Regions from separate parts of the Homo sapiens genome. Here all the other regions are linked to region 3. Evidence: fine-mapped QTL for protein levels in blood plasma. Region 3 holds a variant in brackets. A gene starts in each other region. All regions are shown on their reverse strands. Distances are between the middles of the regions. Region 1 holds the start of IL12A (interleukin 12A). Region 2 holds the start of IL12B (interleukin 12B). Region 3 overlaps LPP (LIM domain containing preferred translocation partner in lipoma).

What was found. PIP is the posterior inclusion probability: the model's chance that the variant is causal. The UK Biobank Pharma Proteomics Project read protein levels with antibody pairs (Olink). The fine-mapping took linkage between variants from a reference panel, not from the people measured, so its PIPs are less certain.
Region 1: IL12A starts here. The variant in region 3 is fine-mapped to the plasma level of the IL12A protein (UK Biobank, PIP above 0.99).
Region 2: IL12B starts here. The variant in region 3 is fine-mapped to the plasma level of the IL12B protein (UK Biobank, PIP above 0.99).

Annotation. Positions count from the first base shown.
Region 1 is chr3:159,987,590-159,990,089 of GRCh38, reverse strand. IL12A (interleukin 12A) reads right to left here and starts at 1,255. Exons shown (of 7, transcript NM_001397992.1): 1 at 916-1,255. The coding sequence starts at 931. IL12A-AS1 (IL12A antisense RNA 1) reads left to right here. Exons shown (of 10, transcript NR_108088.1): 9 at 797-993. RefSeq lists enhancers at 995-1,044, 544-1,044, 1,045-1,545, 2,397-2,500 and silencers at 1,165-1,214, 1,285-1,484.
Region 2 is chr5:159,328,870-159,331,721 of GRCh38, reverse strand. It overlaps IL12B (interleukin 12B), which reads left to right and starts at 1,235. Exons shown (of 8, transcript NM_002187.3): 1 at 1,235-1,290. It overlaps IL12B-AS1 (IL12B antisense RNA 1), which reads right to left and starts at 204. Exons shown (of 5, transcript NR_037889.1): 1 at 1-204.
Region 3 is chr3:188,414,303-188,417,154 of GRCh38, reverse strand. All of the region lies in intron 4 of LPP (LIM domain containing preferred translocation partner in lipoma), which reads right to left. Among named protein-coding and RNA genes, the nearest start is that of LPP-AS1, 150 kb to the left of the region's middle. The variant A/G (reference allele first, on the strand shown) is at 1,463.

The DNA of each region.
Region 1 (2,500 bases), 28 Mb after region 3:
CTTCACCCATCCATTCATGCTTGGCACCCACCTCCCTCAACCCATTTCCAACACTTTTCCTTCAACACCTGAGAGATGACTCGAGTTATTACAAAGCGCCACTCTATTCTAGGGCTAGAAGCCAGCTCCCTGTGAGGGTCTAGAGATGAGCTTGGACAAGGGTGTTGAACCCAACACTCACCCAGAGAAAGCCTACATGTTTTTGATCAGGGAAACCCAGACCAGGTGGTGAAGTGGCTGAGTCAGACTTGGGACCCAGTGTTTTAAAAACAGTGGAGTGAGAAAGCCTGACTTTTTTTGTTTTTTTAAGACGGAGTCTCACTCTGTGGCCCAGACTGGAGTGCAGTGGCACGATTTTGGCTCACTGCAACCTCCACCTCCGAGTTCAAGCAATTTTCCCTGCCTTAGACTCCCGAGTAGATGGGATTACAGGCACCCACCACCACACTCGGCTAATTTGTGTATTTGTTAGTAGAGACGGGGTTTCACCATGTTGGTCAGGCTGGTCTTGAACTCCTGACCTCAGGAGATCTGTCCGCCTTGGCCTCCCAAAGTGCTGGGATTACAGGCGTGAGCCATTGCACCCGGCCAAGCCTGACTTTAGAACTGGCTAGGATCTGCCTTCTGTTTGTAGCTGAGGGACCCTAGGCAGGAAAGCAGGAAATCTCCCACGCTGGGCCTCAGTTTCTCCTCTACGAAGTGGGCATAATGATAGCTCATCAGGCTGTTTCGAGATGAAAAGAGACATGCCCTATTTAGCACACGGTGAGACCCCTATTCTTATTCCTCTTTGCAGGAGACGGCTGCTGCTGTTCCAGTCTCTCCTTAGGCAGACTTGAGTTTCTACCCACTCTTCCCAAGCAGCCGCCCCTCCGCACCCGAGCGAGCCAAAGACCTGGCGGGCTGAGTACTCACTGCGCGCTGGACACATGCTGAGCCGGCACTGCAGGGACACAGGGCGAGCCGCTGGATGCAGACCTGTGGCCGCGGCAGGTGAGGGCGGTGGCTGGGAGGCTGACCCAGGGGGCCACATTTTTATAATTGTCCCGAGGCGCGGCAGGACTTTCCCGGGACTCTGGTCTCTTGCTTTCTGTCTCCTTCTGTGTCTCTCTCTACATCAGCTTCTCGGTGACACGTGCGGTGCGGCCGGCCCGCGGGGCTTGCGGCGCTTTCGGATTAACTCCCGGGGTGCCCGGCCGCAGCCGTTCCGGGACGGCCCCGCCGCCTCCAGCTCGGCCCAAAATGAAAGCGAAATGTTCGCAGTTACTGCGCGGGGTCCACAGGCGGGCGGGACACCCCGCCCACCACCCTGGGTCCCCGGCCTTAGCCGGACGCCCCGTGTCTAAGCTACCCCGCCCCGCAGCTGTGCAGCGCCCCCTGCCGACGTAGAGAGAGGAGTGCCTCCCACTTTGCATGTCCTGCGTAGGGATGGGCCCTAACCACGACCTCCAGCCTAGTACTGGAAGGGGTAGGCAAATCATTCACTCATCATCGTTCCTTTAGATGGCTCACTAGATGCCAGGCCGACGTTGCACCAGGTGCAGGACACCCAGGGAGAACAGGACCCTTGGGGCATTGCCACACTAAATCAGACTCAAGGCGTTTTGTTCACAGGTCTTTTCTGAAACCTGAAAAGGGATGAGAGCTGGCTGACTCTGCAATTATTACTCTTGTAGAGAATCCAGTTTAACGATAGGATGAATACACAGAGTCCTGGGAGGAAAGACCTAGAGAAAGAGCCCACGCTCAGCCGGAGCAACGGGGTCCAGGAGTCAGCAAAGGCTCCCGGGAGCAGGCAGGGGCCCCAACCTGAGTGTTAAAAACAAGCAGGCATTAGACCGCTTCCAGCGGGAGGGCACGCAGGGTCTAGCCAGGGGAAACAGGGATCAGAAGCGCAGTCATGAAGGGTTGAGGGAGGTGGGGGTCTAGGTGTCCTTGCAGGGTGTGAGGCTGGAGGGCTGGATGGGGCCATGCCATGAGGGCAGGGGATGCCATACTAAGGAGTGTACTTTCTGTGCTGAGAGTAGTGGGGAGTCTTCCTGGGTTTTAGGCGGGAGATGTGGCAGAATTTGCATGATGGGGGGATCCCTTCAGCCACAGCATGAAGGATGGATCCAGGGGTCAGGAGTAGAGCAGAGGGAAGAGTTGACAAGGTGTGGCCAAGTCCTTATTCAGTATGGAGAACACAGGGTGGGCAGGAGGGACTCTCAGAGGGCTTGTGGGCCAAGGCTTGGTAGCTCCTCAGGTGAGCGGGAGAGGAAGGCCCTGAGAATGGGGAATGGAGATTGTTCTAGCTTTACAGGGATTACTGTATAAGAGGACTGAGTTTGGAGGAGATGGTGAGAAGTTCCATTTTGGATGTGCTGGGTTTGAGGTTCCTGTGGGACTTTTTAGTTCAGTTGTTTTTCCCACAGGCATTAGTCACCCTAGGCGTGGGTAGTGGGGAGGATGTGTTTGATCTCTGACTTGGAGCTTCCAAAGGGCCTGACTACACCCAGGC
Region 2 (2,852 bases), not on the chromosome of region 3:
GAAATCTGCGCCCGCCTAAAACCCGGCCTGGTCCCAGCCACCGCCCCAGGAACTTCCCCCACCGCAGGGGCGGAGGTCGAGAGCAGGGATGGAGAAGTGGACCTGCGCGGGTGGACTCCGGGGCGCGGGTGGACTCCGGGGCGCGGGGGGACTCCGAGGAGCGGGTGGACTGTGGGGCGCGGGTACCGTCTCGCAGCGACCTCTGTCGGCGGCTCTGGGGATGGCCCGCATCTGTCTGCGTGTACCTGGTATACGTGCAGGTACATGTTCCTGTTCACGTGCAGACTGGGCGGGGGATGGGGGGGTCCACACCGGTGTACACCTTTGCATACCTCTTAGCAACTTGAAATTCCACCACGAGAGATATCTTTATTCCGCTATTCCTGTGCATCTGCACGGAGCCCCTAGGGCCATAGATTTGTGTGCAAATGAAATGAGGATGTAGTCTGGGTGCCCAAGGGGGGGTGCCTTGAGTGTGGTTGTCTGTATGCCTCCCTGAGGGTATTTCACTTTCTGCTCCCATCCGCCCCTATGAGCGAGTACCTATGAGCACAGGATGTGCACATATTTGAGTCTTATTAGTGGTACACGCAGTTTTATCATCTCCCCAGGTCTGTGTCTGTATGAAATGTGCATGGGTGTGTGTGTGCACGCGTGTGTTCCCACTCGGGGAATGTGGGGAGAGGTGCATGGAGCCAAGATGGGTGGTAAATAGTATGTTTCTGAAATTAAAGGACTAATGTGGAGGAAGGCGCCCCAGATGTACTAAACCCTTTGCCCTTCATCTCATCCTCTCTGACTTGGGAAGAACCAGGATTTTGTTTTTAAGCCCTTGGGCATACAGTTGTTCCATCCCGACATGAACTCAGCCTCCCGTCTGACCGCCCCTTGGCCTTCCTTCTTCCTCGATCTGTGGAACCCAGGGAATCTGCCTAGTGCTGTCTCCAAGCACCTTGGCCATGATGTAAACCCAGAGAAATTAGCATCTCCATCTCCTTCCTTATTCCCCACCCAAAAGTCATTTCCTCTTAGTTCATTACCTGGGATTTTGATGTCTATGTTCCCTCCTCGTTATTGATACACACACAGAGAGAGACAAACAAAAAAGGAACTTCTTGAAATTCCCCCAGAAGGTTTTGAGAGTTGTTTTCAATGTTGCAACAAGTCAGTTTCTAGTTTAAGTTTCCATCAGAAAGGAGTAGAGTATATAAGTTCCAGTACCAGCAACAGCAGCAGAAGAAACAACATCTGTTTCAGGGCCATTGGACTCTCCGTCCTGCCCAGAGCAAGGTAAGCACTTCCCAAGCCCCTACCTCCCTCCCCTCCCTGTGGGCCTGCAGCTGTCCAGGTGTAGAAACCGTTAGTGTGCTACCCCAGCAGCTGGCAGGAGGGAGTTGGTGGATTCCTGGAAGCATCCCTGGTGAGTCATCTGCTGGAACATTAGTGAAAACTTAGTACTCTAGGGACCGATGTACAGTGTCCATTTTAAAAGCCACCTAATAATAACTGTATAGCAAGATCTGTGTGTATGCATAGTTTGTGGAAATGTTTGTTTTATCTTATTTTGAAGTGGTGTGTATTGATGTATAAAAGTATATTCCTAAATGTTAATGCCCATCAGTTAAAGGATTGTATAGAGCTAAAGTGAGTGGTGCCTGCCTTACTATTGAAATTTTTAAAAAGCCTTTCGTGCATTCCTTAAAGTAATTGGATTCATAATTATAATAATGTTACAAATCAGACTTGCTCCCATATTTGTGATGGTCTTGGTCGTCAGTTGTGATATCAACCAAAATGACAGCTGGGATCCCCATTCTTGTGGATTAACTAACTTTGGCCCCAGTTAAAAAATGAAAAGCTATTATTGCTTCCTAAAGAGTTTTTAAATCTGTGAGAAGGGGGAAAAAAAGGTTTTTTTACTTGCCCAGGTAAAATTGTGTGCAACAACAATGTCATTTTAACAAAGGGATTACTAAACCCCAGGTGATGACCCACTTTTTCAAACAAGGAATTGCAAGATACTAGATGGAATGTGGGTAACCTCTTAGAGTTTAGTTTACTGGAATCTGAAATTGTATGATTTCCGTACATTCCTTCATGCTACTAATAAGTCATGGAATCCCTCTGTGCTGGACTCTGGGGGTAAAGTGCAAAACAAGATAGACATGATCCATGGCATAAGAGAGTTCACTCAGTGTGGCAGAGAAGACAAACAGTAAAGAAGAGACTGTATTGTTGCCATTGTAGTAAATGCTGTGGAAGGAGGGGAGCAAATAGTGGGTCCTGACTTCATCTAGGCACCATGACACTTCACGTGAATTATGTCACTAACTCCTTACCACAGTAGCATGCCCATTTTATAGATCAGGAGTGTGGGGCTTAAAGGGGCCAAGTGACTCACCCAGAGTCACACAGTTCTAGAAGTCTGCCTGGCCCTCAAACTAGGGATCTTTGCATGTGCCACCCATGCCATCTGTGACTATATCTTTTTATTCTTTAATAATAACTCCCTTTTCTAATTAAAGGTAACAAACAAAACTTAAAAAAGAGATGCCCACCCAAGCGTCATTGGCATGCTGATGTTGGCACCAGTGTTGGGAAGCCCTTAGCATACTCCAGGAAGTAGGAGTGTGTAACGTGGGGTCCCTTTGTCCTTCATGCAAGGGTTTCAAGAGTTTAGAAAACCTATGAAATTGCACACACAAAAATGTGTTTTAATCATCAAGACTCTCAGACTTACCATGCTGAGAAATGTGGGCTGAGGGATAGCGCTCCCTAGTATCAGCTGATGGGCCAGAGAGCCAAAGGAGGAGACCCACCACCATCACCTCTCCTGGACAGTGCTCTGTGGT
Region 3 (2,852 bases):
TGGAAGAGCAAACTGCTAGAAGACTCAGGATGCCACATCCCAATGACCTATACTCCTCTGCCCCAGGTGCTGTCCTCAGCCATCAGGTCTCTCTGAATGCAGTAATTTTAAGAAAGGATGATAAAAATATCATACTGATTTTTTTTAAGTTCTTTAGGTTAATCGTTATTCTAGGGTATGATTTCTTTATATGGTATATTTGCCCAAAGGCTCAGGTGTCAGATTTATTTTTATAATGTCCATAATGAATCCATTTTTAGATAATTTACATAGGCCTACTGTGACCCAAAATTGGCTGAGATTTCAGGCATTGCTACCCAAAGCAACACAATAGCAAGAGCTCTGTAATGCAGAAGCTTGTCCATGGCTAGGGCATTCTCGAAGAATCCATTTTTTTGTTGTTGTTTGAAATTTTCTGGTTTTGGATCCCAAATAAAATGACCCAGGACAACATATGCAAACGATTGGTGTCTATAATGAAAGCACTGAGGGAAAAGAATAGCAACATGAAAGATGCTCTAGGTCTCTGAATCTGTACAATGTTCACAAGATAAAGACTCTCAAGACTTCAAAAGCTACCATCATTAACTACGGGAGGAAGAGTACACTCTCAGGACTTGGAGAAGGTTCAAAGGAGATTAAGGCACTGGTCCCTGAAGTTAATGAAATAAATGAGTGGTTCCCAAACGTTGGTTGAGCATCAATCACAATTCCCGGGAAGTTCTGTTTTATTTTTTATTTTGCTTTGTTTTAATGCAGATTCCTGGGCCCCATGGCCAGATATTTTGATTCTGTAAAATTGTGATGGGACCTAGGACTTGCTTTAATTTTTTTCTTTTGAAAAATGTTCTCCAAGTCTTTCTGATGACTGGCCAGCTTTGAAAACCACAGGTTTAAGCCATACATTTTGGCAGGGATACATATAGCAGTGATCTTTCAAAGTATCATGCAAGCAATTCAGATGGCATGTAAGATAGCACTTTGAGTAAGAGAAGAATACATTAAGATATCTATATGCATTCCTTTATTTTACTATTATTAATTTTTTTTTAAATATGGACTCATAGAAAGTTGCAAAAATAGTACAGAGTTTCCATGTACATTTTACCCAGGTTCCCTAAATGGTAATGCTCATAAAGCTGTAATACATTCGAAAACCCAGCAAACTGACATTGTTACCTTATTGTTAACTAGGAGTTACTCAGTTTTTACCATTTTATAACCTGCATTGATTTGTGTGTGCATACAGTTCTATGTAACTTTATCCCATGTATAGATTCATGTAATCATCACTCCAATTGAGGTACAGATCTGTTCCACCCATACAAAGACTCTTGCTGCGTCCTCTTTGTAGGAATGACCAGTACTTGCCCCCCCCCGACCCACCCATTTCTGTCCCCTAGCAATCATGAATATGTCCTTTATCTCTAGAGCTTTGTCTTAAAATGAAATCATATAATAC[A/G]TGTAACCTTTCGAGACAGTTTTTTCATTAAGCATGTCCAGGTTATTGCATATACCAACAATACTTCATTCTTTTTTACTGCTGAATGGTATTATTCCATTGTATGGCTGTACCAGACTTCACTGAAACATCTGCCCATCAAAGGATATTTGGGTTGTTTCCAGTGTTTTGTCATTATGATAAAAAAAAAAAAGTTGCTATGAACATCCATGTACAGGTTTTTTCGTGAACATAACATTTTGATTCTCTGGATTAAATGCCAAAGGGTATATTTGCTGAGTCATATGGTTAGTACATGTTTACTTTTGTAAAATACCGCCAAAGAGTTTTCCATCGTGGCTACAAAATTTTGCACATGCCTACCAGCATTGTGAGAGATCATTTCTCCACATCCTTAGCAGCATCTGGTACAAATTTTTATTTTAGCTTTTCTAATACATGTGTGGTGATATCTCTTTGTGGCTCTCTGTTTATTTTTATTATCAAAAAAGCAATTAAATTCTCTTCAGATGTAAAATACGGAGGGACAATAGTATTGTATATTTGTATAATTCAAAAATAAAGATGATTAATATGTATCTCACCACACAAATCAGCATTAATTATTGTTTTTGAACCATACAAGAATTAGGAGGCACCCATCACCTTATTAAGGAACTCATTTCAGTAGTTAATTAAGCTGACAAGTTACAAAATAAAAGAGATTTCTGTCAACAATACAGGGACTTCTCCTTGTTCTAAAACATCCAATCCACTTTGTTCGGGTATATTAGTTCAATCACTGTAACTTCTAAACAAGTCCCCCAAAACGTGTCTATGGCAACCAGAGAAGGAATCCCCAGGATCATGGCTTGGCTTCCCCACTTACTAATCTGCAATACTGAACAAGCCACCTGCCTCTCTGAGTCTCTGAAATGAAGATTAAATTGTTGCCTGCATTCAAGAATTTTCATTGGTTATTTACAGCACTCCTGGGCAAAGAACCTGTACTTCGCTGAAATGTATTAGTGAATACATTCTCAACTATTCTCATCTAGGAAAGAAAGGGGTTGTATTAGATAACTTTTAAGATTCACCCTGGTTCTAGAATTTTACAGTTTATATAGTGTTGAGGCATTGTGATCTCTATCACTGTTGTTAGAAGCTAATGACATGAGTACTTATGGATAACATGCTAAATTATTATTATACTTATATTATCACATATTCATTACTACAGACTAAGTATCGCATATACAAAACATCTGGGACATGAAGTGTTTCAAATTTCAGATTTTTTGGATTTTTGGAATATTTACACATACCAGCTAAGCAACCCTAATCCACAATACTGAAATCCAAAATGTTCCTGTGAGCATTTCCTTTGAGCATTGTGTTAGCACTCAGAAAG